7 linked regions of the Homo sapiens genome follow. The protein of the gene in region 2 purifies or fractionates together with the protein of the main gene of each other region. This does not show direct contact. Each region holds a gene or a part of one and is shown on either strand. Other genes may lie near its edges.

Region 1 (4,115 bases), on a different chromosome or scaffold from region 2:
GGCAAAGCTAAAGCTTGATCACAGGCATGTAGCTGGTTCTAGGAAGTTCCTACTAGCAAAAAGTTTTCATGGTAGTACCAAAATGGGATTCTAAGAGAGGTTTTAGCAAAAACATCAGACTGTGACTAAACAAAACAGGGTTAAAAGCATAGATTCAAACTACTTTCATCCAAGTAACCCAGCAGAGTTTCCTTGAGAGAATCATGAGTCTGGAAGGAGAATTTTGATGTCAACTCTGAACTACTGCTATCCATATTTGCAGATAAGGTACATGGTACATTTTGATAAGAACCTTAGGCCAATAATGACTCAAAGCAAATTGATGTGGTTTGTTCTTACCACATCAATCAAATGCTACATGTAAAAGCCCAGGAAATGTACTGGAAAACATTCATGAAGAAGTATCTCAAGGGAAATTGGAATTCCAAATTCTTAAAAGTATATGTGTATGACATTTTGACTTTTAAATCTAATTAGTCCTCACCAATACTTATGTAGTGCATATAATTTCTATTTTACACATGTGAAAACAGGTTGAAAAGGTTGACTTATTTCCATTTGAGAAAAACTCTTTGTTCTCCACAGTGTACATGGAGGCTTTAAAAAGCACCTGTAGGCCCAGTGCAGTGGCTCATGCCTGTAATCCAACATTTTGGGAGGCTGAGGTGGGAGGATTGCTTGAGACCAGGAGTTTTAGACTAGCCTGGGCAACATAGTGAGAGAGACCCTGTACAGTATATTGTATGTGTGTGTGTGTGTGCATATATATATATATTTACACATATATATGCACACACATATATATGCACACACACATATATTTACATATATATGCACACACATATATTTACATATATGTGTAAATATATATATGCACACACACTGTAAATATACACACATACACACTATACATATATACTATTTATATAGAAACGGAGAATAAAAAATAATCTAAAAAAAAACACTACTTGTGGGATATAATTCTGCCTGGCACATAATAGATGATCAATAAATGTCCATTGTCTGATAAGTAACAGTTTCTTTCTTGATTCTTATACAGGGTAGCTAGCTCCAAAGAATGTCTGATTCCAACATCTTTGCTTTTTCCAATACCACATGCCAAGAGAGAAAAAGACATACCTAATTTTTTAATTCTCACCATAAATCAATGAGACATAAACATTTTGGCTCTCACTGTCAACAAAACTCCTGTGTGTGATTTTTTTTTTTTTTTTTGGAAAGCAATCTAATGTTAAATCATGCTTCCTGGTTCCAAAACACTAGAAGTGCCAGCTTGACTGGATATTACACCTAATTGGCAGGACAAACATTCAATGCACCAAACAAATGGAATGTTCTTGTCCCTCATCCAAAGTAATAAAGTGCAGAGAAGCTCGCTTTTGTGCGCGCTGTCTCTCTCTCCCTCCCTCTCTCACTTTCTCGCTTTCTTTCCTCCACCCCTCCACCGCTCTCTCCAAGGGTCTTGGTCTCAGATCTCAGTTGCTTCTGCCCCTTGATGTTTGGGATTTTCTCCTTGCCTCACATTGCAGCTGCCTCTCCTTTGCGTCGGCGAATGTACGTCCAACAATCGCCCTCTAAAAGTTTTGAACTTTACTTAGGGGTTAAAAAAGAACTCTAGATCAAAGCTCTTGCGAGCTGCGTCCTAGTGCATTCAGGAATCCACCTCCTAGACAGAATTCCTCCAGCAACAATTCCAGTTCCATCCCACTTGTGAGCGCCAGCAGAGCATAGTGCTTGACATCGGGGCGAGAGAGGTGCATGCGCCGCGCACGCTCGGGCGCGCTCATACATACCACAAGAGGGTGAGTCCCCTGCCTCTCCCCGAGCCTAACCTGAAGGTCTGCGAGGAGGTCGCACCCGGTCCGCACCCCTTCCCCGCCAAACCCCGGACAACGCTTCATCCGCACGCCCAGAAGGGCAAAGCAAACACACTCCCTTCCAACACACTCCCTTCCGGGTCCTGCCCAGGCACAACCGCTCCTATTTACCGTCTTGTACCACCAGCTGGCGAATGCCATGGCAACAACCGGCTGGCTCCGATCCGCACGGCGGGGGAGCCGGCGAGGGCGCGGGGTGTTGCGTTGGAGGCGCCGGGCTCACACTCCGCTTGGCCGGGACCGGGCTGGCACTGAGCTCCGCACATCCCAAGGCGGCTGCCAGGTGGGCAGAACCCTGGGGGTGGGGCCCGGCGCAGGCCCCGCCCCTCCTCGCCCGCCCAATTTGGCTCGAGGCTGGTTAGGGAAGAGGCTCTGCGTCTCCAGGCAGCCACGCCCTGCGGCCCGGCCTTAGCGCGGAAGACTACATCCCGCTGTCCAGTGAAACCACCCCACTCACTCGGGGGTCCTGAGTGAACCTCATTCCCCGTTCATCCTCATCCTCATTCACCCACGTCTTACCAGCCAACTTTTCTTGACGCGTCCCCCCCTCCACTCTACCCGGCCAACGCCACGCCCAGCGCACTGGACCCGGCCGGGGAACCGAAGCCACCTGCAGCCACCTGCCTGGCAGCGGCCAAGCCCCTAGCCCTCTCCCTGCCCCGCGGGGGCGCCGGGGACTGCAGACCCGCCAGCCTGGCAACGCCCAGGGAGGGCGGCCACAGCTCCGGGACCCGGTACCCCATCGCCCAGCCCCGCGACGCCGACAGGAGCGCCACTCACCTCATGGGTGCGGCGGGCGGCGGCTGCTCGCCGGGGCCGCGGGGAGGCGGCGGGCTTCTGGCCGGGCTGGGACATGGCGAGGCCGCTGCGGCCGCTGCCTCCCGGAATGCGCCGCGGAGAGTGGCGGGGAGGCCTGGCGGGGAGTCCTGCCAGGGAGAGAGGGAGGGAGGGAGGGAGCGGAGGGCCCGGGAGCGGGCGATGAAACAGCTTTTCCGACCCCACCCCAGGTCTGCGCCGGGGTTCCCCTAGCCCCGATGGGCCCTCCCCTTCCTGCCCGCGGAGGGACCCGGGCTCCTGCCCTGTAACTTAACACCCTCCGCCCCGGTCCTCACCCGGTGACCCGCCCCGGCCCCAGCACTGCTCTGGTCCCGGTTGGTCAGAAAGAAGGGGTTGGAGGTTGCAGCGTTCCTCCTTCGATGCCCAGATCTAGCTTGCAGTTGTGCAACGAGAGAGCGGGACCCGGGCGTGGCCAGTCTACGCTTCGACCCTCCTCCCAACAATCCGGAGAAGTAGATACTCTTTCTACATTCTGCTCCGCTTTAGCTGCGAGAGTTTACCAACTCAAATCTGGCCCAAGCCTGGACAGTCTAGATAAGGAAGCGGATCACAAAAACAAATTGGTCTGTGTGTGTGTGCGTGCGTGCACGCGCCTGTGTATGTTTTATATGATTTTACTTTGTTTTTTGGCAGTTTCGAATTTTAATAAACTTTTATGGGGAGGAGAACATAGGTTCCAATGCAAAACGGAGAACAGTCCCAAATTTAAACCCTTATAGTCTTTCTAGAGTCTGGCGAGTTTTGTTTCTGAAGCTAGATTGCTTTCTTCTTGGGCTCATCTTAAACAGCGCTTCCTGGTTTGGGGCTGGAAGTGAAATTTAACAAGCCCTACGTGCTTATGTGAGAAACTGTCAGCCTGCAGTTGCTGCTGGTTCACAATCAGGCCTGACAGAAAACCTGTTTGTTACCCTGCAGTAGCATCATCATTCTGGGACTTGGGGTCACCGCTTTCTGCAGCGTTGGGGTTTAGACAGTTGAAGAGAGAGAAGGCAGAGCCTTTTTTTTTTTTTTTTTTTTTTTTCTGGAGAGGCAGTTTCGCTCTGTCTGGAGTGCAGTGGCGCGATCTCTGCTCGCTGCAATCTCCGCCTCCCAGGTTCAAGCGATTCTCCTGCCTCAGTCTCCTAAGTACTTGGGACTACAGGCGCGTTGTCACACCCAGCTTTTTTTTTTTTTTTTTTTTTTTAATGGTAGAGACGGGGTTTCACCACGTTGGTCAGACTGGTCTCGAACAACACCTGACCTCAAGTGATCTGCCCAGTGCTGCCTCCCAAAGTGCTAGGATTACAGGCGTGAGCCACTACAGCCGGCCAGAAGGCAGATTTTAAGGAGAGATTTGTCATGCTATATGGAGCCTGGCAGAACAGAATTCTGGTTTCCTTT
Region 2 (3,500 bases):
TCTGAAGGTTTCAATTCTTCTCTGGGGTAAGATCCAATGAATGGAATTGTGGTTAGTATTTTGGTAAGCTTCTTTTATAAATTGAACTTCAATGTTTCTACCCAGCGTAGTAAGCTAGTTAAATGTGTTTTAGTGTTACCTCATTTGGGGAAATTTAAAAAAGAAGTATGGGGGACGACTATTGACAGTATTCTCATTTTTAGTAAAAGAAAGTGAGGAAAAGGAAGTGCTTCTGAAAACAAACCTTTCTGGACGGCAGAGCCCAAGTTTCAAGCTTTCCCTGTCCAGTGGAACGAAGACTAACCTCACCAGCCAGTCATCTACAACAAATCTGCCTGGTTCTCCGGGATCACCTGGATCCCCAGGATCTCCAGGCTCTCCTGGATCCGTACCTAAAAATACATCTCAGACGGCAGCTATTACTACAAAGGTACATTCTTGACTCCCATTTTGCCCCCTTTTTTCCCAATTGAAGCTTTCTCAACAATAATTTTGACTAAGATTCCCTTTGGTTACTGCCACCTAGAACTGATTTAACATCCCTGAACTAGAGGATGAGTCCCCCCCACCGCTTGAACTTATATAAAGGTTGAGAAATTTCTGAAAGTTTTTTTTATGACCAATGCAAGTCTGCATATAGTGTGAATTCTCACTTGGGTATTTTGGATTTTAGAACTGAAACTTCAAATTTGTATGTCAAAACATTTACAGAAATGTTCAAGGTTTTCAGTTATTCTTGAATAAATGTTCCTAACTAATACCCAGATAAAGCCTTTGTGGGGAAATGATAATCTAAATATCTGGGTACTTCTAACTTTACTTTGCCAGTTAAGGTTTGTTAAGAAAATTAAACATCTACTATCACTAACATTTCATATAAGAAATGAACAAGGGCTGGGCACGGTGGCTCACGCCTGTAATCCCAGCACTTTGGGAGGCTGAGGCGGGCAGGACACGAGGTCAGGAGATCGAGACCGTCCTGGCTAACGTGGTGAAACCCCGTTTCTACTAAAAATACAAAAATTAGCCAGGCGTGGTGGCGGGCGCCTGTAGTCCCAGCTACTCTGGAGGCTGAGGCAGGAGAATGGCATGAACCTGGGAGGCGGAGCTTGCAGTGAGCTGAGATCGCTACTGCAACAGCGAGACTCCATCTCAAAAAAAAAAAAAAAAAAAGGAACAAAATCTTAAGAAAAAATGTAGAAAACATGCAATCTCAGAATAAAACCAGTTTTGGGGGCTCCTTATGCCAACCACCCTTTTCTTTTGAGACATAATATATTGATTATTGGGCTAGCAGACTAGCAGTTAAAAGACTGGCATTTGGGAATCACTGATCTAAATCAGACACGTAATGCCCATTCAGTCTTTTTTTTTTCTGGCGTGAGCTGGAGACTCCTGACGGCTAAGAAGTGAATCTGAGACACGCTGAAATGAAGAGGCAGGCTTGAGAGCAGAGCAGTGTGAATTTTTCCCTTAGCATCGAAATAAAGCAAGCAGCAGCCAGGCGCGGTGGCTTACGCCCGTAATCCCAGTGCTTTGGGAGGTCCAGGGGGGTGGGTCACGAGGTCAGGAGATCCGAGACCATCCTGGCTAATACGGTGAAACCCCGTCTCTACTAAAAATACAAAAACATTAGCCGCGTGTGGTGGCGGGCGCCTGTAGTCTCAACTACTCAGGAGGCTGAGGCAGGCGAATGGTGTGATCCCGGGAGGTGGAGCTTGCAGGGAGCTGAGATGGCGCCACTGCACTCCAGCCTGGGCGACAGAGTGAGACTCCATCTCAAAAAATAAATAAAGCAAGCGGCAGTGGTTTCTGGTGAAGGAGCAGGGCTAAAAGGAAACCCAGATGAAATGATGAGGAAGAGTCAGGGTAGAACTGCTTTCCTAACCTCTAATAAATAGAAAAAGCCTGTCTACCCTCATTTCTGGTGGTCTCTTTATCTGCTGCAGTTTTCATTTTGGTACTTTTTTTTTTTTTTGACAGAGTCTCAGTCTGTCACCCAGGCTGGAGTGCAGTGGCGTGATCTTAGCTCACTGCAATCTCCACCTTCCAGATTAAAGCGATTCTTGTGCCTCAGCCTCCCAAGTAGCTGGGATTACAGATGTGCACCACCACACCTGGCTAATTTTTGTAATTTTATTAGAGACAGGGTTTCACTATGTTAATTAACAGGCCAGGCTGGTCTCAAACTCCTGTCCTCATGTGATCCCTCCGCCTCAGCCTCCCAAAGTGCTGGAATTACAGGCACAGGCCACCATGCTCAGCCTCATTTTTATACTATTTTAGACTTTATGTTTAAAAAAATTTTAAGATGCTATTAAGTCTTGAAACAAACATTTTTCATTCATTTTCTAACTCCTGGGTAATTTGCTAGGATTATAAACTACTTAAATTTTTTTGCTTTAGTTTGGGTGCAGTGGCTCATGCCTGTAATCCCAGCACTTTGGGAGTCCAAGGTAGGTGGATCGCCTGAGGTCAGGAGTTCAAGACCAGGCTGGCCAACATGACAAAACCCTGTCTCTAGTAAAAATACAAAAATTACCCAGGCGTGGTGGCGGGCGCCTGTAATCACAGCTACTCGGCAGGCTGAGGCAGGGAGAATTGCTTGAACCTGGGAGGTGGAGGTTGCAGTGAGCCGAGATCGCACCACTGCACTCCAGCCTGGGTGACATAGCGAGACTCCGACTTGGAAAAAAAAAATTTTTGCTTTAATTCTAATTAACTCAAAGTTTTCCCTTATTGTAAAAAAGTATGCATGTTTATTACAGGAAATTTAGAAAATATGTAAACATAATGAATTGAAGTTTAACACAGTCCCACCACCCAGAAATAACCACCGTTACTATGTTGGTAGGATCTATTTTCTTTCTCCAGCCAGAAAACACCAGTGTTTTTATATGTTTTATTTTCTGTTCTTTAAATAATCCTTATTTCTTAACAGGGAGGCCTCGTGGGTCTGGTAGATTATCCTGATGATGATGAAGATGATGATGAGGATGAAGATAAGGAAGATACGTTACCATTGTCAAAGAAAGCAAAATTTGATTCATAATAATGGCAACGGCCTAGGATCAGTACCTGTTGAAAAAAACTGGTTCTCCACCCCTCCCCCATACAAAATCCACAACAAAGCGCAGTGGTCTCTTGTGAATGACTGACACAGATCAGCCTCTTACACTTGACTTCTGCTCATCAAGTGCCAATTCAATGGAGCAGGAGGAGGGGATATCATATATTTAGGGGAAAGACTTAAGCCTTTGAGCTCTCCAGCTTGGACCACACATTGCCCTTTTCTCAGGGAAGGAAATGGAAACAAAAAGCCAACAGGGCAGGGGTTTTGTAAGTGGAACTCTGGATTGACTGGTCAGTTGCTACAATCAGAATATGCTTTCTTGGACCATGTTTGAGACTCAGAAGAATGGGCCTTTCTGCCATAATTCTTCACTAGTCAAGAATGCCAGCAGTTTCTTTGTATAAAGAGACCTGCCTTTAAAATCATA
Region 3 (3,500 bases), on a different chromosome or scaffold from region 2:
CTGATGTCTTAGAAAAATCCTACAGTTTTATGATTTTAATTAGAGTCTCTTCTTTCTACAGAAATAGGAAGGTTGTTGATTACTCACAGTTTCAGGAATCTGATGATGCAGGTAAGTTTTGTGGTTTCAACAAATTTTAAGTTGGACTGACCAGTGGAGGTTACCAGCTTATATAGTTTTATTATGCTTTTGGAATAAGTTTTACTTTTTTATTTTTAGATCATTTACCAAAACCATGTCATGATCTGTGTCAACCAAAGCAAAAGTTGAACTTACATGGATTTTAACTTTTCCTTGGTAAATCATTGATAATAAACATTAAAAAGCTTTTTTCTTACCTGGTTTTGGAGTCCAAAGTTTAAATGTCCAGTAATTCTGATACAGTGTTCATTGCTTAAAATATCTCCTGCTGTCAGCCAGTCGCCATGGCTCATGCCTGTAATCCCAGCACTTTGGGAGGCCAAGGTGGGCGGACCACTTGAGGTCAAGAGTTCCAGACCATCCTGGCCAACATGGTGAAACCCCATCTCTGCTAAAAATACAAAAATTAGCCGGGAGTGTTGGCATGCACCTGTAATCCCAGCTACTCTGGAGGCTGAGGCAAGAGAATCGCTTGAACTCGGGAGGCGGAGGTTGCAGTGAGCCGAGATGGCGCCACTGCACTCCAGCCTGGGCAACAGAAAGAGACCCTGTCTCAAAAAAAAAAATCCACTACAGCCAGGCGCAGTGGCTCACGCCTATGAATCCCAGCACTTTGCAGGGGAAAAAAAATCTCCTGCTGTTACTACAATAAAACTTGTGCCTTGTATTATGTTTTTACATAATAAAGCAACTAAGATGAGAGTCTGTTTTGTGAAACAACTTATATTTATGAACTAATTCATCAAGGAATGAGTGTTGTATAGCTAAGTCTTAGCCATAAGAGGTTTTTTCAGAGTTGTCTCCTTAATCTCATTACTTTCCAGGTATGTTTACTATTCTTTTTTCTTTCTTTTTATTCTAACTTTTCTTTATAAAGATAATATGTGCCCTTTGGGAAGACTTAGAAAATACTGAAAGATATGAAGAAGAGAAAAAAAATAATATGTAGCACTAATATTTATTAAATGCTTGCTACATGTCAGGAATTGTTTCAAATGTTTGTATTTAATATTTACTTAGAATAATCTGTTAATGTGTGATATACTATTATTATTTCTATTTTGAGTATCTTGTTAATAAAAGGTATTTGAAAAATTCCTATCAATGGTTATATAATATCCCATAATGGAATTTATAATGTTTCTGACCACTTAATAATTGCTGACGCTCCAGACTACTTCCAGCATCTCGCCATCGTGTGTGTGTGTGTGTGCATGTGTGTGTGTGCAAATGGTGCAGTAAACAGTTTTGGAAATAATTTCCTTTTAAGGTAGAGTCATTTTCCTTAGTTTTATAGGGCTTTTGAAATTGGAGATATTTTCTTCAAGTGCAAGATTATGTTGTATTTAATGCTTTAGTTTAAAAGTAATTTGCTTAGTAATAGTAATTGTGTTTACTTCCTAAAATGTTTGTAATATAACCATATTACAATAATTTTCAAATAAGTGTGAAGATGTTGAAATCAAAAGGGGAGGGTATAAAATGATGAGAGAGGTTTAGCTATAGAAAGATGAAATATATATCATAAGGACTAGAGGGTAATATGCAAAAACGAAGTGAAGGTGATAGGACTGCGTTGGGAAATAATTTAGTTTTTTAAAGATGAAAGAAACTATTTGGGAAATCCTGCTCCTCTCACCATTTAAACAGCATGAGAGATAATTATGTCAGTAAATATAGTGGTGATTTTAACATGTAAAAATCATAGTTAATTAAGTTTGAAAAACACTGTTTAGATGAAGATTATGGAAGAGATTCGGGCCCTCCCACTAAGAAAATTCGATCATCTCCCCGAGAAGCTAAAAATAAGAGGCGATCTGGAAAGAATTCACAGGAAGATAGGTAAGAGGCATTGTTTTTCTGTTCCTGCTTACACTGTTACCACTCTGAGATGAGAGCAGTCTCTGATCTCTAAATTGTTGGAATCTCATATACTTTTGAAAAGTACTTACTGTCCACTTAATATTTTGCATATTTCATATTATCTCAGGCTGTGCTCGAGTATACAATTTGTTATCTAAGGTTAATACTGACACTTTCATTGTAGTGATAACAAAAAATAAGTGATATATCTCATTCAGTCACAAATCACTGGCACAATTAATTACAACTAAAGCTTGTAGAATCTTAAGTTGTATAGCCTGCTGCCTTTTGCTGTCTCATAATCAATTCTCCTTTGTTTAAATAATTTAACCATTTTGGAGAGTTTCTTTTCCCTTAGTTTTACAAATGAGTTGTGATTTTAACTATAATTTTGCCTCATAAGACCAGGATATTAGGAGTACATGGTGGCTCATGCTTGTAATCCCAGGACTTTGGGAGGCCTAGGTAGGAGGATCGCTTGAGCCCGGGAGTTTGAGACCAGCCTGGGCAATATAAGGAGACCACATCTCTACATAAAAATTTAAAAATTGGCCGGGAATGGTGGCACTTGCCTGTAGTCCCAGCTACTCAGGAGTCCGAGGCAGGAGGATCCTTTGAGCCCAGGAGTTCAAGGCTGCAGTGAGCTATGATTGCACCACTGCACTCCAGCCTAGGTGACAGAGCCAGGACTGTCTTGGGAAAAAAAAACAACAACAAGACGAGGATATTGTAATTTCTGCCTTGTTAGTAAAGTTATACACACTCTCACACTTGATGTAACATGAACTTGTTACACTTGGTGTAACAAGACCTTCTTGGTGATAATGGTGATTATAGTGATGGTGATGGCTACTGTTTATTATGTGACAATCTCTATTATGTGTTTTACGTACACTATCATTTAATTCTTACATCATCTCTATTTGGGTAAATATTAACTTCTTAGAGGGGTTCTGTGATTTAACCAAAGTTATCCAGCAAATGGACAAACAGGTTATGAAACCATGTCTGTTGGACTCCAAAGTACATTGTTTAACCATTGGAGCTCTATACCACTTCCAAATAATACTATTACAAATGAGCAGTTCAAATAAATGAAATATTTCTCACTGCTTCTTCTAAGAATCTTGGAGCACCAAAATCATTATTAAATTCATGTATTTACCTAGTAGTTTTATTTATGTTGACAACCTCTAATACTTTTTTTGCTGGAGCATTTCAGAAGTGTGCTTTTAAGGAAAAATAATACAGAATTATACTGTTGGGAAACAAGTCTTCTAGAGCTTCTTGGTATATGTCTAACATAGTTGTTGTTGTTTGTTTTTAATAGAGATGGGCTCTCGCCATGTTGCCCAGGCTAGTTTCAAACTCCTGGGCTCAAGCGATCCTCCCATCTCAGCGTCCCAAAGTGCAGGGATTACAGTGTGAGCCACCATGCCTGGCCTAAAACAGTTTTTTGTTTGTTTGTTTGTTTGTTTTTTGAGGCAGTCTCACTC
Region 4 (3,358 bases), on a different chromosome or scaffold from region 2:
TCTTTGCCCATAATGTGTCAAGGGCAAAACAGAGGGGTGGATATGATGCACGTGCCTCAGCCCGGGGCCCGTACATGGCTGGCGTCCAGGTAACGCAGGCCTGGGGCAGACATTCCTTACACAGCTCCCACCCTACTCTTACGTCCACATTTAGGCAGCCAGGCCACCTTAGCCTTGGAGGGGAGGACACCAACGGGGCCCGCCTTACCAGCAGTCAGAAACAGACCCACATCCCAGTGGGTACCCAAGGCTTCTTTCCTTAGGCCCCATCCCATTTAGGAAGTTGGGAAACCCACTGGGTGAGCCCAAAGGCTACCAAAGCCTGGCTGTCTGGAGAGGCTAGTTCAGAGTCAGCCCTGGGGGCTCCTGGGCCTCGGAAGGGCACACCCTGCTTCCCTCCAGGCCCACCTCCAATCCCTTCCCGCTTCCAGCTGGGCCAGGGGAGCAGGAAGACCCCTGGAGCACCGGAAGCAAGAAAGAGGCAGGCAGGGGCGGCTAGCCAGGTTTGTGCTCGGACTATTCACACAGAGACATGTGGCAGCTTACGTTGGACAAAACGAGTAATAAAAATTGGCTTTAAATATGGAAAAAACAGGGCCCTGTAATCCCATGCTACCCTAACACTGGGACCAGGATGGCCATCACAGTCTGGGAAGGGCCAGGGCTGGGACCTGGGGCACAGGCACAGCCTCGCCCTATCCCCTTCACCCACACAGGTACACACGCGCGCGCACGCACCCCACAGGCGCACACAGGAAGGGGCGGATTATTGCTGGGCACATGTGTCTATTGTTATGAGGGGAGTCCGGAATGTTTGAGGGTTGACCAGGGATGCCCCACCCCCTCCTAGGGGCTGGGCTTGGGCGTTTCTGAAAGAGGTGTCTGCAGGACAGAGCCCAGTATCAGGGACCAGGCTGTGGGAGCTGGAAGGCAGAGGCAGACCTATCTGGGCCGGCCGGGGCAGTGGGCTGATGGGTATCACAGGCAGCCCAATCTCTGGCCACTTTGGCACAGGCCTAGGGCATACAGAGGCCCCAGACCCAGCGCTGACAAGCACTGAGAAGGGACAGCTTTGGGCCCCAGAGGGTAGCAGCCTGAGCCCAGGGCAGCAGGGGGAGGCACGAGTCTTACTCAGAGGCCGGGGTGGCCAGCACAGTGCTGAAGGCTCAGGGGTGTGACCACCCTCAGCCATCCAAGCTGGGCCAGAGGAGCCTTGAGTTTGGCAGTGGCTCCTCTGCCAGCTCCCGCTCTCCCAGCCAGGGCTGGCTGCCCCCAGGAGCCAAGGCGGGGGCGCCAGGTCTGCGGCGGGAATTAAGAATGCTCTGGTCGCTATATACATTCGTACAAATACATAAATACAGAAAGCCCCGAGCTCCACGGAGAAGAGCTGAAGGGACGCACCTTTGTCCCAGGGATGGCCCAGGCCCTGCCAAACTCAGCCAGGCCAGGGGCTGAGGGACGGAGGACACTGGGGACAGCTCCGTCTGTGTTCCCCAGGCCACGACTTGAGTGGACAATGGGGAAGATCACTGTGCAAAACTGTAAACGGCGCTCGGAGTAGCTGCTACCGCCAACTGCTGGTGGGGGCCTCGGGCTGGGGGCTAGAGGCGGGTGGGGAGCTCTTCCTCGCTGTCGCTGCAGTTTCCACAGCAATCCTGGAGGGACGGGGAAGACACGGAGGGAGGGAGAGAGGCAGAGCAGGTGCCATTAACCACGAGGGACGTCACATGGGGCCGACCCTGCCAGGGCAGGCCAGGAGCTGCCTGAGGGGTGCACTCTGGGGAGGGGCCTCTCCACAAGGAGCCTGGAGCAGCAGCTCAGGCCACACGTGGGTGGGCGTCATTGCAGAGGCTGCCGGCAACAGACTGAAGTAAGGGGGCTGGGTAGATCCCACGGTCTGCCAGGGCAAGGCCTCTGCCCAGCCCTCTCCCCTGGGGCTGGCAGAGACAGGGCACGGGGAGACAAGCGAAGCAAAGCTGGCAGCTCGAAGGGGCCAGGGTGCAGGGGATCAAAGCAGTGGGCAGGGGGAGTGGGGCGGGCACCAGACTTCTTTCTCCCACATCTTGCCTTTGCCATGGAAGGGCTGCCCGTGGCTCCCCGAGGCCAGGCAGCAAGGCCAACCCACGGGGAGCCCACACTGCTCACCTCTGGAAAGAGAAAAGAGGCCATGAGCCCAGCCAGGGGTGGGGGACAGGCGGGAATGAGGCCAGAGACCCTGGGCACCACAACAGGACTGGAGGACGCCCACTCCCAGCGCATGCGGGCACCGGCTCTGCCTCCCACCCACCGTCCCCTGGAGCCAGGTTAGGGGCCCAGGTAGGCCGCTGCTGGGGCTTACTTGGCGACTGAAGAGTCTCTGCAGCAGTCCCTTTTTAGGAGGTGCAGGTGGCTGGCCCTTCCAGTCCAGGTCTGGGGGAACTGAGCCATCCAGCCCAAAGACATTCAGCTCTTGGAAGCACTCGGTCTCCACCATCTGCTGAGGAGCAGGCGGCTGTGACAGCTGTCCCCAGGGCAGCCTCCTGGAGCCCACCCCACCAGCAGGGCAGGCCCCCACCTCGTTCTGCCAGGGGATGGGCACACTGCCTGTGGCAAACTTCTGGTAGAAGTCCTGGTCGGTAGGCTCCAGCTCCACGCCCTTGACCGTAGAGAACTGTTCAATGTCCAGAACATCCTTGCAGTAAATGGCCTGGGGCTGGTGGGACAGAGGCAACGGTCAGATAGGAAACACACACACGCACACGCGAAGGCAGCTCAGCCCTGATTCTGCCTCGGGTCTTGGCCTAGTGCTGCCTGACACCAGCAGCTCTCTGATTTGGAGAAACCAGGTGCCCCACGCACTTCCTAAGTGGGGCAGGCCCTTCTCTCCGAAGCCTGGTTTTCCCCTCTGTGAACTGCGTACGTTATTCCTCACTGCTCAATGACTGTGAGGCTGTGTAAAGGCCAATGCCAGGCACCTCCTTCGCCTGCCCACAGCTTCCTGGGTATGCAGTTGGGGCGGGGAGTACAGGCTGAATCTCAGCCGGCCCCTCCGCTGGGCACCACCACGCAGAGCCTGGAGCTGGTGACTCCCTGGCTCCCCGCCCTGCGATGACCTGGGACTTGCCGTCTTCTCTCCCAGCCAATCAGAGGACTGGCACGGTCTCCCACTGCTCCACCTCCCCAGACCCACACTGGGAGCCCACCTCAGCTCCAGGCGGCCACCTTCTTTTTTTATCTTAACATTGTTTTCTAAATCCTTCAATTAAGATGTCAATTAAAATCATTGTCATGTAAAATGGTACAGCTGCTTTGGAAAACAGTCTGGCAGTTCCCCAAAAGCTTAAACATCATTACCATATGACCTAGTAATTCTACTCCT
Region 5 (2,311 bases), on a different chromosome or scaffold from region 2:
AGCAAGGCCCCGACACGCCGGCCTCGCCGGGTACGGCCATGCATGGCAGTCCCGGAGCCTGCAGTTGGGCGCAGGCCCGCCATGCAGGAGGGGCCTTCTCCAGTGACCTGTGGCGGCGGTGCGGAGCCTCCGCCAGCCTTCTCCTCGCTGTGTGGCCACCCACCCCGCACCCTGCCGTCCTCGCTGGGCCTCCGTCTGTGGTGGGGTGGGGGTGGTGCGGGCCGTTCCCTTGACGGCGTCCCCATGGGGCTTCCAGCGCGGTGGAATGTGGACAGCGCCATCCCACCCGAGGACCCATGGGGCTGTCTGGCACCAATAGGAGAAAGGAGGCCGGGGCTGCAAGAGCCCCGTGAGGCAGTGGCAGGGGCTGAGGGGGTCGGGAGGGATGGAGCTGGCATCCGGGACACACTGTCTTGGTGACGAGGAGGCGGAGCAGTCCCCAGAGGGTCTGGGAAGACTCAGTGGCGAATGGCACCAGGGAGGACCGTCAGGCGGAGGCTGCCCACAGAAAACGACTTCTGCTGCAGCCCTTCCGGGTGCTGATGTGACTGTGGAACACGAGGCCGAAGAGACTGAGGCGTCCTCCTCACCCTGGTGCCTTGGAGAGGAGCCCAGGATTCCGGGTGGCCACATGGCCCTGGGCCCTGGCCCCTGGCACTGGCCTGTGATGATGGATTCTGAATTGACCATAGAGAGGGGGACGAGGTGGGTGGGCCTGACCTAACCACGCAACCCCTTTAAAAGCAATTCTCTCTGGAGACCCAGGGCTTGGAGCTGCTGGGGCCTGGATGGAGGAGCTGCGTGGGAGTAAGGTAGGTGGTCCCGGCCGGCAGCTAGCAAGGAACCTAGACGCTGCCCACGCAACCACAGGGACCTGGGCTCAGCAGCACCCTGCCTGTGCAGCCCGAGGCCCGGCACGCCCAACCCCTGCTGCGCACACTGGGCCGAGTGGGTGGCCGCCATGGCGAGCTGCGGGTGGGTGGCGTGGTTTGTTACCCAGCGACGGGAAGAGGCAACACCACAGACGACAGCCAGGCAGACGGGGAAGGAGGCACCTGGGGCTTTCCAGGACCGAGTTCCGAGAGGGCGGGGCCTGCCGGCAGAGACACCTGGTCCACAACCTGCCCCAGCATGAACATTAACCAGAGAGCCAGGGACGCTCAGAGGTCAAGAGGTTAAAACCCAAACCAACAAGCGGGTAAAGGCGTGGACGAGAGCAGCTCTCCGTCAACCTTCACGGCGCGGGCAGTGACAAGACAGTAAACCAGGCGAGCACGGCCGCAGGACAGGACCAGCCACAGCCCCCAAAGCCAAAGGCGCGGGAAGCTGCCTCCTGGTTTACCCCAAAGAAACAGAGTTCAGAGTGGCTCACCTGGCGTGGACTTTGGCCTCTGCTTCGGGGTCTGATGGACTAAGAATCTATAGGCGACCCCTCCTCGTGCAGAATGCAATTCCGGAACTAGCAACGGCGCACACACGAAGGTCTTGATAAGCAGCAAAATGGAGAGTGAGGGGCTTCCGACTGGAGGGGCCAGGCCCAGCTTTCACCAGGGGCAGCTCGTCTGGCAGAGCACACAGCGCTGCTCCGAGCTTCTAAGATGGGTGGGGTGTCAAAGTCTGTGACACAAATCTCTGCCCGACCAGAACCAGATAAAGACAACAGTCCAGAGAAGGACGGCTGGAGTAAGGCAGATAGGCAACGTGGGAGGCGGGGCCTGCGGAGAGAGCCCAGCCAATCCTAGGACTGGAGAGAAGGCACAGGGGCCACATGGGTGGGTGGGGGGAGGGCCTGCGGAGGGAGCCCAGCCAATCCTAGGACTGGAGCGAGGTGCAGAGGCCGCGTGGGAGGCGGGGCCTGAGGGAGACCAGCCAATCCTAGGATGGGAGCAAAGTGCAGTGGCCACGTGGGAGGCGGGGCCTGTGGAGGGAGCCCAGCCAATTCTAGGACGGGAGCGAGGTGCAGAGGCCACGTGGAAGGCGGGGCCTGTGGAGGGAGCCCAGCCAATTCTAGGACGGGAGCGAGGTGCAGAGGCCACGTGGGAAGCGGGGCCTGAGGAGGGAGCCCAGCCAATCCTAGGACTGGAATGAAGGCACACAGGCCATGTAGGAGGTGGGGCCTGTGGAGGGAGCCTGGCCAATCCTAGGACTGGAGGGAAGGCACAGGGGCCACGTGGGGTTGGGGGGTTCTGCGGAGGGAGCCCAGCCAATCCTAGGACTGGGGCGAAGTGCAGCGGCCACGTAGGAGGCGGAGCCTGTGGAGGGAGCCCAGCCAATCCTAGGACTGGGGCGAAGTGCAGCGGCCACGTAGGAG
Region 6 (3,500 bases), on a different chromosome or scaffold from region 2:
ATTCTACCTTCAGTAAATTAAAGCCTTTATCTTACCCGGTGTACATGAAGTTCCTTAAAGATCTAATGCTTCCATGTACATTTTCTATGGTTTTACAGGATTATTATTGCCAATTTAGGTCAGATACATCACAGGAGGAATAAATTATTATTTTGATAGAGGTTATTAGCAGCATGTATACAAATTAGTTTAGATAAATCATGCATTGTCCTACAAACTAGTTATTTCTGGCTTAATGTAATATAGCTCCTGAATTTTTTCCAGCAGCATAATAAAATGGCTAATCAGGTGAATGGTAATGCGGTACAGTTAAAAGAAGAGGAAGAACCAATGGATACTTCCAGTGTAACTCACACAGAACACTACAAGACACTGATAGAGGCAGGCCTCCCACAGAAGGTGGCAGAAAGACTTGATGAAATATTTCAGACAGGTATAATATGCATTTCTTGTTTCTGACTGGTTATGAAAGTGAGGGCAAACCACTTTGAATTTTATAGTTTTTTAAGGTTAAATAATACTTATTGTTTCTGATCTGTAGAGCTGAATGTTTGTTACTTTCCCTTCATTGAAGGCATATTGGGTTTGACTTTGATACTCTTATTTCATTATTTTGAAGCCTTCTTAGTGTTGAATATGCAGTCTTAGTTGTTTCAGAACAGCACATCGATTTGTCTTAGATTTACCACCCATAAAAATGTATGTTTCTGCATACCAAATTTTACATTTTTTTCTTAATCAAAATCAGTCATCATTTTGCTTTTGCTTTTCTACTTTTACCTTCTTAAAGTGATTGTTAAATCAGCTTAGGTCTGATTAGGTGGCATAACAAGAGGATAGCTGTATCGTCTGAAACCATAATAAATGTCAGACTCCTTGAGAGTTTGTGGCTTGTCTAGTTTCTAATAGAAATCCACATCTCTCCGTAATTTGGAAGTGTTTGGTTGTAACAGCTGCTTCTTTTTTTTTTTTTTAATCCAGAAGTGCCATGGTTAAGTGCTTAAGCAAATTTGAACATCTTAATATAGTTGGTTGTAAGTGGTTTGAAGTTTTAAAGAGGGAGAGAAATATTTACCCTTAGGGAGCGTTGTTCATAAATGAATGTGTCCTCCTCCTTTGGGGACATAGATGGAAACTTTCTTCCTCTGTGTTGTGTGTGCCTATTCAGATTCTGAGAGAGAATTGAATTGTCTCACTCACAAATGTGTCTTAAGTACAGTAGTAGCAAATAGCTGTTTTTTTTTTTTTGTCCTTAAAAAATTTTTAAATCTGGGAAGCTTAGCATAATTTTAGACATTAAAATGACTTATAAAAATGACTCCTGGGTCATGGTCGCATTTGAAAATCAGTCCTCAGGAACTTTCTGTGACATTCTGCCATAGAGAATTGGCAGTGATCTGCTTAGAGATGCTCTCTTGTAGAGTGTTTTGTTATTGATAAGAGGCTGATGGTTTGGGCGTAGACTTGGTTTGACAAAATGGATTGATGGGTGTCCTGAGTTGTGGCTTCGGGTGGTGGTATGGAATATTCAAGTGAGGCAGCTCCAGTTATTTACACATGCTCATTTCGAGCTTTTGAAACAAATCATGGCAACTTTTTTAAAAAGTAACTTTGGAAGTGGCATTACATTTATTTAAAATTTACTATATGGAATAAAGTTCTTTTTAGCTTTATCAAAATGGAGTCACTTTTCATGTTCATATGAACTTGGGGGTTTTAATCTACGAAATACTTGCATTTTACGTTGGATCAATTCTGAAATATATTCCATATGTAAATATGACACAAACTTAACAGACTTAAGAAATTATATTTTAAACTTAGTAGATGTTCTGTGTGCAGTTGAATATACTTACATATATGAAATGCAGTGTATATATTTTCTGTCAAGTTTACTTGTAAGACCATAAAGTCTTTATTGCCATTTGAAAATGATTGTCGTTCTTGACAGTCAATGTGAATGCCACAGCATCTTTTAAATCTCAGCTTGTCACTTCAGAAGAACAAAGAATGCCTTAAAGTATGACTTTCAGAATTGATTAATCAAGCTGCACTTGCATTTGTAGAAGTTTAAAATTATGCCTTTCCACATTCTGACTGCAGCAAAGTGGATGCTCAGATAAACAAATGCATTTCAGTTTATCTTTGGTGTTCAGGAGGGAAAGCCTTTTGACACTTTTTGGAGAGTGGAAAGAATTACTTAGTAAAATTTGTTTTCAGATTTTCCTCCACCTCTTAGGTGGTTAGCATCAACTGTAACCGTCTGTAATTTGAAGGTTTATCCTTGGAAAACGCAATGTATTCTTATCACTCTAATATAAACCAAAATTTGTTGTATTAATGCATAATCTGTAATACAGTATGTACATCAGATTTAACTTTCAAGACTTATACCTTTGGGGGAGTGGGAAATGGATGTTAGGATTTGGCGGGGGAGGTTTGTGGATATGGAGATTGAAATTCATGTTTTTGGTTGTTGACATTTTATCTTTATTTTCATATTTGTCCTGGACCTTTCTATGTAGTATTTGGATAGCTGCGTATATGCATATAGTTAAATGAAAATACAGTTTGTTAGTGATCATATTGAATGTAACAATTCTTGATTAAACGTCAGTAGAGCTTAGATTACCCCTTTTGTTGCAATAACGTTACCCCTTTCAATTTAATTTTTAGGATTGGTAGCTTATGTCGATCTTGATGAAAGAGCAATTGATGCTCTCAGGGAATTTAATGAAGAAGGAGCTCTGTCTGTACTACAGCAGTTCAAGGAAAGTGACTTATCACATGTTCAGGTAAGGTCGTTACTCAGAAATGTCTTTGAACAATTAGTAATCTGAAATTATTTTACTATTACTTTTTTTCCTATGGAGAAGTGGTATTTTTTGTTTGTGACTACCTCTTCTTTTAAAAAATTAGTTTAAAGGAAAAAAACTGCTTGTGGCAGAGTTTCAGAAGCCCAAGTATAAAGCAAAAGTTTTCTCCCACCCCCTTGTGCAGTAAGTTATTTTAAAAACTTAAAATTAAAGCCAAGTTTTGATGGTTGTTACTATAGGTTTTTACATGTTACTCAGCTTTTTAACATTTGGGGGTTATTTGATCCTGTTTTATTATCTTGGAGGAAAATGTAGGTGGGAGGAATAGTTTCCGACATCTGGCAAAGACAGTCTAGATACAGTCACATATCAACAAGTGGAAGACTGTGTTTTCCCAGGGTAGAAGGTAAGCTCCCTGAGGTCTATACTGCCTTACTGCTGTCTGCTCCAATCTCTGGCACATAGTAACCACTCGGCAAATACTTGTTGAATGAATCAGTAAATCTTTTGTTAAAATCCTGGTTTTCTGAAATTTAAATTTAATTATGTATCTGACCCTTCAGATATTTTTGGTGATTCTTTTTATTGAATTACTTGTCTGTTCTAGAACAAAAGTGCATTTTTATGTGGAGTTATGAAGACCTACAGGCAGAGAGAGAAACAGGGGAGCAAGGTGCAAGAGTC
Region 7 (3,500 bases), on a different chromosome or scaffold from region 2:
CTACAGGAGGCAAAAGATCATCATTACCATGTGCACAAATTGGATCTTTTACGGTAAGCGGATCTTCTGAATGTATAATTAGGGTGCCTTGACTCCTGAATTCCCTTGAGGTATTTACAGAATCTTGTGAACTTAAGCATGAGTGTTGAGTTGATATGTTGTTATTTGAAGTTTGCACACATTCTTCAACTTTGGAGTCAGATAAATTATGATCTTGGTGTTTCCCATCAAAACTGTTACAAGAAGGGGTTGTCTGAATTGCTGCATCTTTTGTCTTTTCTGCACTGGGTTGATTCAGTTTTTGATCTGGTACTGATGAAGCTGCTAGATGGTTTTCCTTGTAACTTATAGCAGTATCAGTTTCATGTGCCTCAGAGTTTGATGGTCTCTCAACTTCCATATCAATGTTGTTATTTTTGGCAACACCTTCTACATTGATTTCTGTTTTCTTCACTCCATTTTTCATATTGTCTTCTGTGTTCTCTGGATAGACAATTATTTCATTTTGAACTACTGAGAGAAAAAAATCATCAAGTTAAATATATGAAAGAAGTAGAAAACCTCAAGTTTTTAATGCCTACTTTCTCCAACCTGAAATAGTTTGGTTTGAATTCTACAGATAATTTTCAACTCACTGACTATATAAAGGTAGGTAGTAGCATACAGAGAAAACAGTACGTGCTTTGGATTCATACAGACTGAAGTTTGGAATCCCTGGCTTAACTAGTGTGGCCACAACATGTTAATTAACCCCTTTGAGCCTCAGTTTGCTCAGACATAAAAAGGTGAAAATATTTATATTATATGTGTATCATTTAGATAGCATGCTCATTAGTATATTGACCAGAATAAACACTCCATAGAAGGTAAATAAAGTTTTTACTTCTTAGAAGATGTCATTCAGTCATTGTTCATGACAAAAAATAGAAATTGACAAATTCAAAAACTGTATTTTTCCTCTATTTTGACTGTCTTTTCTATAGCCCCTAGCATATTTATATTTTCATACCTAACATTAAAAGGAAAAGAATCCCAGCAAATGCAGTTTTAATGAAGGCCTTAACAGAAAACATTAAGATTTATAGTAAAAACAGAATCTCAGTTGATTGTCTTGTTAACTAGGTATCTTTGCTGAAGGCTGTTAGAGGACTTTATTTTTAGTTATAACATGGGTGATTTCAATGACATGAAATCAGTCATAATGGTTTTGATTTTTCTCTGTTGGAAATAGGCATCCTTATTCTACAGTCAGAGTCAAAATCAAAGTAGAGAAAATAACCTTCCTCTCCCTTGCACTACTTTTCCTCTTGATTCTAATTCAGACCTCCTGAAAACAAAACTCATTTGCCAGTGTCTAGGTTAACAGAGCAACAGCTTCCAGTCAACAACATGATGGCAAAGCACTGGCAGGAGGCATGTGGAAGGAAACAGGGTTTGGAGTCTGCACCATGTGCCCAGTACCGAATTAAGTCATTCCTCTGCTCCTCTATTCAAATGCCCTGAAGAATCATGCTTCCTGCACCATCACTGTGCTTATCTTCAAAACCCTAGTGGCCTTTTCACATATGGCAATAGTTTGCACAGCACAAGTTAAATGTGAGCCTTGGGGGTCAAACTGTGAAATTATGTCAAGTTATTTCTCTATAGTTTTATCATTACCCACTATTACCTATAAGAATGAGATGAAGTACACTGCCTAAAATGTAATAAGCTATATTATATAGTTTCTCTCTTAAAAAAAGAAAAAGAAAAAAGATATGCATGCAGAAAAATATCATGTTAGGTAAATTTGTATACAATTTAAAAACATATCTTCACATTTTTAAACTCTGCCTGATTGCACAGTTATTTGGTTGTGGCAGTTAATATTCTATATTGTGTTGCAAGATTCCTATATTAAACATGTAATTTTAAAATGGAACTCATTTTTATTCTTCCCAGATAAAATGCAACTGAGTATCAGAATACGTACCATCTACTTAGGTGAATTCTTTTCTCAATGACCAATTATTATTAACTATTTTGATTTACAAAATTAAAGACCCATGTTCTTAGGAACCATAGAAGAGGCACATTTCTGCCTCTGCTCTCAATTTACTTGGTTCATAAGTATTTTTCAATGTTCATATGAAAAACACTATTTTGAACAGTTATAAGCATGAAAGAATTTAAGAAACAATCTCTGGCAGCAGGAAATGAGTCTAAATGTATTTCCTTCTTTCTTTCTTATTTCTAATTTTCCACTGAGTATATGTATTTCCCAGAAATATTTTCCAAAAGAAAGAAAGTCAATGTAAACATATATTTTAAATTGAATCCCCGTTTAAAAACCCTAATTTATTGGTTTTAGAATTATAAGTCTCTCTTTTTCATATTTTTGGTAGGTTACACCTACTTTACCATTGTCTAACTCTGAATTTCTTCTCAACATTTCATGATCATTTCCAGTGATTGGCAGTCCTGGAAACCCAGAATCCATCCTCATATACAACTGACAATGATGTTAACCAAGTGTTTATAAATGGCTAGATCATTTTCCAAGAATGGCCAGTAGAGGGAGAAGGTATCTTTTATACTATAGTGACCCTCTACTCAAAAGTGACACTGACATTGACAAACTTACAAGAAGGTGATTTAGATAAGGGTAGGTAAAAAGGAAAACAGAATAAAACTACTTTAAGAATAATAGACATTATTTACTTTAAAAAACAACTAGAGTTGACAAAAGTCGTAGCAAAACAAACCATATGCAAATCAAAGTACTACGTAAATGTACTTGTGACTCTGGCACTAACTTGACAACAAAAGTCTTAACAAAAATGATACAACTTGACTATTGTTTTAAAGAGAAAGAAGCAGCTTTTAAATCATAATTTCTCAATAGGAATGCTATTGCCATCACAGTACATGCTGTGAAAAACTGACTCAAGTGGAAAAGAATGAAAAAATTATTTGCTTTTAGACCTTCTCAGTATGATATCTCACAATGGTATTGAATGTGGGAGAAAATGAATCAGTAGCACACATAATCAAGTTAATGAACACATACCACACACATACAATTATATATATATATAATTATATATATAAGTATGACATTGCGATTATCTATGTCTTATTCAAATATGAATACTACATCCTAAGTTTTCTAAATATCTTAACCTAGTTTTCTAGATTAACATAATAGATTGGACTATGAGAATTCATAAGCCACTTCCTTCTTAACCCCTTAAAACACCATTGAGTATTTTTTGAATTTTCTATTTGCATAGGATTGTTTTTCTGAAATTCAATACTAAGTACATATTTTATGAGTATCTCAGGATTCTGTTAGGTGCCATGAGTAGTGCAAAGTATCACATGTAATTTATCTGATCCAAGACTGCCTAATTCAGTTGAGGAATCATAAATATAGAACCGCAAAGCTTCTAATAATCAAGTAAAAACATGAAATGATATGATTTGGATAAAAATTGAATGGGTAAAATAGATGAAAAATT

Evidence for each region.
Region 1: the proteins of PPP4R3A (region 2) and CAST fractionate together in Homo sapiens (co-fractionation; one large-scale study listed by BioGRID). This does not show direct contact.
Region 3: the proteins of PPP4R3A (region 2) and NUCKS1 fractionate together in Homo sapiens (co-fractionation; one large-scale study listed by BioGRID). This does not show direct contact.
Region 4: the proteins of PPP4R3A (region 2) and GRK6 purify together in Homo sapiens (affinity purification with mass spectrometry; one large-scale study listed by BioGRID and IntAct). This does not show direct contact.
Region 5: the proteins of PPP4R3A (region 2) and EHMT1 fractionate together in Homo sapiens (co-fractionation; one large-scale study listed by BioGRID). This does not show direct contact.
Region 6: the proteins of PPP4R3A (region 2) and HNRNPR fractionate together in Homo sapiens (co-fractionation; one large-scale study listed by BioGRID). This does not show direct contact.
Region 7: the proteins of PPP4R3A (region 2) and COBLL1 purify together in Homo sapiens (affinity purification with mass spectrometry; one large-scale study listed by BioGRID and IntAct). This does not show direct contact.

What each region holds. Positions count from the first base shown.
Region 1 is NC_000005.10:96,661,061-96,665,175, reverse strand, and holds the start of CAST (calpastatin), read right to left. Parts: upstream 2,801-4,115; 5' UTR 2,754-2,800; coding exon 2,679-2,753; intron 2,152-2,678; exon of another isoform or gene 2,040-2,151; coding exon of another isoform or gene 2,010-2,039; intron 1-2,009.
Region 2 is NC_000014.9:91,458,311-91,461,810, reverse strand, and holds part of PPP4R3A (serine/threonine-protein phosphatase 4 regulatory subunit 3A), read left to right. Parts: intron 1-203; coding exon 204-430; intron 431-2,941; coding exon 2,942-3,052; 3' UTR 3,053-3,500. UniProt on the Homo sapiens protein: Regulatory subunit of serine/threonine-protein phosphatase 4. May regulate the activity of PPP4C at centrosomal microtubule organizing centers.
Region 3 is NC_000001.11:205,726,183-205,729,682, reverse strand, and holds part of NUCKS1 (nuclear ubiquitous casein and cyclin-dependent kinase substrate 1), read left to right. Parts: intron 1-61; coding exon 62-111; intron 112-1,877; coding exon 1,878-1,983; intron 1,984-3,500.
Region 4 is NC_000005.10:177,440,034-177,443,391, reverse strand, and holds the end of GRK6 (G protein-coupled receptor kinase 6), read right to left. Parts: intron 2,693-3,358; coding exon 2,555-2,692; intron 2,474-2,554; coding exon 2,339-2,473; intron 2,148-2,338; coding exon of another isoform or gene 2,142-2,147; exon of another isoform or gene 2,039-2,141; intron 1,658-2,038; coding exon of another isoform or gene 1,656-1,657; coding exon 1,602-1,655; coding exon of another isoform or gene 1,565-1,601; 3' UTR 501-1,564; downstream 1-500.
Region 5 is NC_000009.12:137,832,005-137,834,315, reverse strand, and holds part of EHMT1 (histone-lysine N-methyltransferase EHMT1), read right to left. Parts: intron 1-2,311. UniProt on the Homo sapiens protein: Histone methyltransferase that specifically mono- and dimethylates 'Lys-9' of histone H3 (H3K9me1 and H3K9me2, respectively) in euchromatin.
Region 6 is NC_000001.11:23,337,785-23,341,284, reverse strand, and holds part of HNRNPR (heterogeneous nuclear ribonucleoprotein R), read left to right. Parts: intron 1-264; coding exon of another isoform or gene 265-276; coding exon 277-433; intron 434-2,676; coding exon 2,677-2,795; intron 2,796-3,423; coding exon 3,424-3,500. UniProt on the Homo sapiens protein: Component of ribonucleosomes, which are complexes of at least 20 other different heterogeneous nuclear ribonucleoproteins (hnRNP). hnRNP play an important role in processing of precursor mRNA in the nucleus.
Region 7 is NC_000002.12:164,695,324-164,698,823, forward strand, and holds part of COBLL1 (cordon-bleu protein-like 1), read right to left. Parts: intron 514-3,500; coding exon 1-513.